Linked DNA regions of Homo sapiens: region 1 is linked to region 2. The links come from fine-mapping of genetic effects on gene expression. A gene starts in region 2. The other region holds a variant in brackets. All regions are shown on one strand. Distances are from middle to middle. Region 1 overlaps LIMK1 (LIM domain kinase 1). Region 2 holds the start of LIMK1 (LIM domain kinase 1).

Region 1 (2,897 bases), 22 kb before region 2:
CTTGGCTCACTGCAACCTCCATCTCCTGGGTTCAAGTGATTCATCTGCCTCAGCCTCCTGAGTAGCTGGGACTACAGGCACCTGCCACCAAGCCCGGCTAATTTTTGTATTTTCAGTAAAGATGAGGTTTCCCATGTTGGCCAGGCTGGTCTTGAACTCCTGACCTCAGGTGATCCACCTGCCTCGGCCTCCCAAAGTGCTGGGATTACAGGCATGAGCCACCACGCCTGGCCCCGTCCCCGGCTTTTTAAAAAATGTGTGTTTCCTCTTTTTTTTTGAGAGTGGGTCTTGTTTTGTCACCCAAGCTGGAGAGCAGTGGTGTGATGACAGCTTACTGCAGCCTCCACCTCCCTGGCTCAAGCCTGGGCTGCATTTGTGCAGGGCTGGCTCCCCGACCTAGGTCCCACAGCCCCTGAGCCCCAGCAGGAGTGAAAGCACCCAGCTGAACCGAGGAGCAGGCTGACTTACAAGACAGGTTTCTGCCGGGCAGAGCTGCCCGCCTCCCCGCTGGGAGTATAAGCCGGAGAGCTCAGGGGGCTGGTCTCAGGCCCCAGCCCGTGGCCCAGTGTATCGTGAGGGTCATGCTCGAGGGTCAGCTGGAGCAGGCGGCTGGTTTCCTGAATCAGCAGGTCAATCTGGGGACAGCAGGCATGTGAATGGGGGTGGAGTGGGGAGGGGGCTAGGCATGAAGGCACTACCTCCCGTCCTGCCCCACAGACTCAGGACCGTACCTCGTCCAGGGGCACATTTCGGATGGGCGTGCCATTGATTTCCAAGATCCGGTCTCCGACGTGGATGGAATTCTTCACATCTGGGCTCATGCAGCCCGGATCCACTCTGTGGGTAAGGCAGGGGTCAGGCCAGTGCCCACCTGTCCCTCAGAGCCCCAACAGGAAACCAAGGCGAAGGGCACCAGATCCAGGGTGAGCAGGTGGAGGATTCTACTTCGTGTGACTGGGAAGTAGCAGATGGCCAGAACACCGAGTTCTGGTTTCAGGGGAGGAATTCTGTAATCAATTACTGATGTCTGCCACAGGTGTGAGCTGGAGAAAGGTGGCACGCTTGTAGGCACTGGCCACCCACACAAGATGCTCAGCTGTTCCCATTCAATGGACCATTGTCTCCACCCTGGGGGAACAGATCTATCCTTCCAAATCCCAGGTATGTTTGGTCTCGAATTTTTTTTTTTTTTTTTTTTGGAGACAGAATCTCACTCTGTTACCCAGGCTGGAGTGCAATGGCACAATCTCAGCTCACTGCAGCCTCTGCCTCCTGAGTTCAAGCGATTCTCGTACCTCAGCCTCCTGAGTAGCTGGGATTACAGGTGCACACCACCACACCCAGCTAATTTTTTTTGTATTTTTAGTAGAGACGGGGTTA[C/T]ACCACATTTCCCAGGCTGGTCTCGAACTCCTGAGCTCATGCAATCCGCCCGCCTTAGCCTCCCAAAGGGCTAGGACTGGCCGGGCGCAGTGGCTCACACCTGTAATCCCAACAGTTGGGGAGGCCAAGGTGGATGGATTACTTGAAGTCAGGAGTTTGAGACCAGCCTGGCCAACATGGTGAAACGCCGTCTCTACTGAAAATACAAAAATTAGCCGAGCGTGGCAGTGGGCGCCTGTAGTCCTAGCTACTTGGGAGGCTGAGGCAGGAATTGCTTGAACCTGGGAGGTGGAGGTTGCAGTGAGTCAAGATTCTGCCACTGCACTCCAGCCTGGGTGGACAGAGCGAGACTCCGTCGCAAAAACAAAGTGCTAGGATTACAGACATGAGTCATTGCACCTGGCCTGCCTGGTATGCTTGGGGCAGATGAGTGCCTTGGGTCCCAAAAAGGTCCCGGATTAGTGGCTTCATATCTGACTCCCAAACTCGCCCTGCAAGAGGAGGCCAAGCTCTATTGCTCCTGCATTGGCAGGAGGGAGCTGGCAGCTTGCCCTGAGCCACAATTGCAGGGTGAAGACGGGAAAGAGACCCTCGATCAGTTGCCTATAAGCTAACTCACAAAAAGACCAATTTGCCAAATTTACTTATTTCTTTTAACTCTTCGGTGTTAGGGACCTGGTTTTCTTTTCTTTTCTTTTTTTTTTTTGAGACAGAGTTTTGCTCTTGTTGCCCAGGCTGGAGTGCAATGGAGTGATCTCGGCTCATTGCAACTTCCGCCTCCCAGGTTCAAGTGATTCTCTTGCCTCAGGCTCCTGAGTAGCTGGGATTACAGGCATGTGCCACCATGCCTGGCTAATTTTGTATTTTTAGTACAGATGGGGTTTCTCTATGTTGGTCAGGCTGGTCTTGAACTCCTGACCTCAGGTAATCCACCCACCTTGGCCTCCCAAAGTGCTGGGATTATAGGCGTGAGCTGGTTTTCATTTTGCCTCATAAAAGCTTTTTAGGGAATGCTCACTTTGTCTCTGCCCTAGGTCCTGGAGATGGAAAAGGGGATGGGGGTAAGGCAGAGAGGAGACTGAGAACTTTAAGAAAAACAGGGCCAGGTGTGGTGGCTCATGCCTGGAATCCCAGCACTTTGGGAGGCCAAGGTGGGAGGATTGCTTGAGACTAGGGGTTTGAGACCAGCCTGGGCAGCATAGCAAGACCCCATCTCTATGACATTTTTTACAGAAAATTAGCTGAGCATGGTGGCACACTCCTGTAATCCCAGCTATTTGGGAGGCTGAGGTGGGAAGATCACTTGAGGTCAGGAGTTCGAGACCAGCCTGAGCAAAATAGTGAGACCTCACCATTACAAAAAATAAAAAATTAGCCAGGCATGGTGGTGCTGCCTGTAGTCCCAGCTACTCGAGAGGCTGAGGCAGGAGGATCGCTTGAGCCCATGAGGTCGAGGCTGCAGTGAGCTATGATCATGTCACTGCACTCCAGCCTGGGCAACAGAGTGAGACCCTATC
Region 2 (2,897 bases):
GGCAGGGGGAGGTGTGGAGTCAGGCCCTGCCTTGGGGCCAGGTGGATCTAAGTGACAGGTCAGCGAAGGAGATCCAAGGAGGGGCCCCCAGACCCTGTCCTAGGCTGGGGGAGTCCTTGAACCCTAACTGCAGTGCAGTACTGCGCCTTGGGCCCCAGTGAGGGAGAAGGGGCTAAAGAGGAGGTTAGGATGAGTCATGCTCCCAGCCAAGACTGAGGGCAGGCACCGGGTTTGGGGCACGGACAGGGAGAGTGGATGAGGCTCCCGCAGTACACGGCCTCCGGCTTCCTGGACGCCTATCTCCGCTCTACCCATCTGGCCCCCAATCACCGACACCGGGGGGGCAACTACCCAGTTTCCAAATGTACAGAAGGGGAAACTGAGGACCAGGAAGTCAGCGCCTGGCTCAAGGTCACAGAGCCGGGCAGGCGCCCGGCGGCCACTGGGACCCGGGGCTGCGGCTTCCCCAGCCGCTCTTTCTTCCGAGACTGGATAAAGGGTGGCCCCAGGGCGAGGCCCGGGTGGTGGACAGAGCACGCGGATGGAGGCCGACGCGGGGTGGGCAGTGTCTGGGAGTCCTTCGCGGGGGGACGTGGGAGGAGGAAAAAGGGTCCAGGGGCCCCCAGACCCGCAGGAGGGCAGCTCGCCGGGGGCCGGGGAGGGGGATCCCGGGCGGGAGGGGGACAGGGAGGGGCCTGCGGGCTTCGTAAGGACGAGCTCATCCCGGAGGAGGCAGGGGCGCGGCCTCCTGGCAGACCCGGCCCCCTCCCGTGCCCCACGCTGCCCCGGGCACCCCCTCCAGGCCCTCGCCCCACACCCCGCGGCCCGCGCACCTTCCTCTCCCATACGTTCTTCCCTCCAGGTGCAACAAAGTAGCGTCAACCTCATGCACTCGACGGGGGGCGGGGCCCGGCGGGGCTGGGGCTGGGGGCGGCCGGGCCCGCGAGCTCGCCCACCGCCGCCGGCCCGGGGAGGCGGGGGCGGAGGGCGCGGGCCGGGCCGGGCCGGGCCGGGGGCGCCTCTCGGACACCGGCGGGGAAACCGGCTCGGCGCCGCGGCGGCTTGGGGAGCGAGCGGAGGGGCGGACCGAGGCGGGGCCTGTGAGCTGCGGCACGGGGGCGGGGCGCGGGCGGCCGGCGGCGGGAACGGCCCTGCGCGGCCCCGCCCCCACCAGAAAACCCCGCCCCCACGCCCAAGGCCACGCCTCTAGAGGCCACGCCCCGCTGCGGCCCGGCCTGGGGGCGCCGCGAGCTGGCGCGGCGCGCCCCGCCCCTCCCCGCCCCTTCCGCCCTTCATTCATTCTTCTTTCTCCCAGCGACAGGCCTCGGCTGGGAGCTGCGAGGCCCAGCTGTCTCGGAGGGCCGCTAGCTCTGCTGGGGCAGGCCAGGAGGATGTAGGAGCCTAGAGAAGGGGCCTCCGCTTCCCTGCGCGAGGCCCCCACAGACCCAAACCAGCTGCAGCCGGGAACTCGGATCAGAGCTGGAGAGGCCCTGTGGACCCCCAGGACACTGGTGGTCGCCTTGGGGAGGGGAGGGAGGCGGGCCGGGTTTTGTCCCTCTCTCTGAGGCCTGCATTGAGGCCAGGCTGGGCCCGGGGAAGGTGACGGTCCGCGTCTCAGGCCTCGCGAATGAGCAGCACCAGAGAAAGGAGCGAGCCCCTGCCAGGCGGTGACAGGTGTACTCTTCTCAGTGCCGATTACCTGGAGCTGGGGCTGCCCTGCCCAGGGTCCTGGAGGGAGCACGGGTTTGGGCTGAGTCAAGCGTCCAAAGGAATTGGGTGGTCCAGTCCAGCACTGATGGTGGAACGCCCTGCCTAGATGTGGACAATTCTAGAATGCTGGACATGGGCAGGAAGCAACCCTGTCCCCCCTAGGTCTACCTTCCACGTCATCCCTCTGCCCAGGAAGCAGTGACCGGAGTGGAGCCACGTGCCCACGTGAACCCAGTGAACAAGAGGCAGCGCTAGCCCAGCTCCAACTCTAGTCATCATGTTTGTGGGGAGAGGTCTAGGCACGTCTGCAAAGTGGGGGGCACTCACCCCTGGGTGCAAAACAATTACGTGGGGTGGGAAGAAAATACTAGATTTTTTTTTTCTTTTTTTAGATTCGGTCTCGCTCTGTTGCCTAGGCTGGAGTGCAGTGGCGGGATCTCGGCTCACCGCAGTCTCCACCTCCCAGGTTCAAGCAATTCTCCCACCTTAGCCTCCCGAGTAGCTGATATTACAGGCGTGCACCACCATGACCGACTAATTTTTGTATTTTTAGTAGAGATGAGGTTTCACCATGTTGACCAGGCTGGTCCTGAACTCCTGACCTCAGGTGATCCACCCTCCTCGGCTTCCCAAAGTGCTGGGATTACAGGTGTGAGCCACCACGCCTGGCCAGAATTTTTAATTTCTCATGAGAAAGAAGGCTGGGCACAGTGGCTCACACCTATAATCCCAGCACTTTGGGAGGCCAAGGTGGGAGCATCACGTGGGGCCAGGAATTGGAGATCAGCTTAAGCAATGAAGTGAAACCCTGTCTCTTCTAACTTTTTTTTTTTTTGAAATGGAGTTTCACTCTTGTTGCCCAGGCTGGAGTGCAATGGTGCGATCTCAGCTCACAGCAACCTCCACCTCCCGGGTTCAAGCCATTCTCCTGCCTCAGCCTCTGGAATAGCTGGGATTATAGGCATGCACCACCATACCTGGCTAATTTTGTATTTTTAATAGAGACGGGGTTTCTCCATGTTGGTCAGGCTGGTCTCGAATTCTGGACCTCAGGTGATCCACCCACCTTGGCCTCCCAAAGTGCTGGGATTACAGGCGTGAGCCACCGCGCCCAGACTTTTTTTTTTTTTTTTAATTAGCCAGGCATGGTGGCTCATGCCTGTAGTTAGTTACTTGGGAGGCTGAGG

What was found. PIP is the estimated chance that this variant, and not a neighbour inherited with it, causes the effect. A credible set is the group of variants that fine-mapping cannot tell apart.
Region 1: its variant is the best candidate, but not a certain one, in a credible set for the expression of LIMK1 in whole blood (TOPMed, PIP 0.82).

The regions. Positions count from the first base shown.
Region 1 is chr7:74,103,815-74,106,711 of GRCh38, reverse strand. It overlaps LIMK1 (LIM domain kinase 1), which reads right to left. Exons shown (of 16, transcript NM_002314.4): 6 at 732-837; 7 at 469-635. Among named protein-coding and RNA genes, the nearest start is that of LIMK1, 21 kb to the right of the region's middle. RefSeq lists an enhancer at 738-1,238. The variant C/T (reference allele first, on the strand shown) is at 1,381.
Region 2 is chr7:74,081,982-74,084,878 of GRCh38, reverse strand. LIMK1 (LIM domain kinase 1) reads right to left here and starts at 1,075. Exons shown (of 16, transcript NM_002314.4): 1 at 834-1,075. The coding sequence starts at 888. RefSeq lists enhancers at 262-531, 1,018-1,696, 1,592-1,701, 1,697-2,375 and silencers at 722-771, 882-931, 1,052-1,321.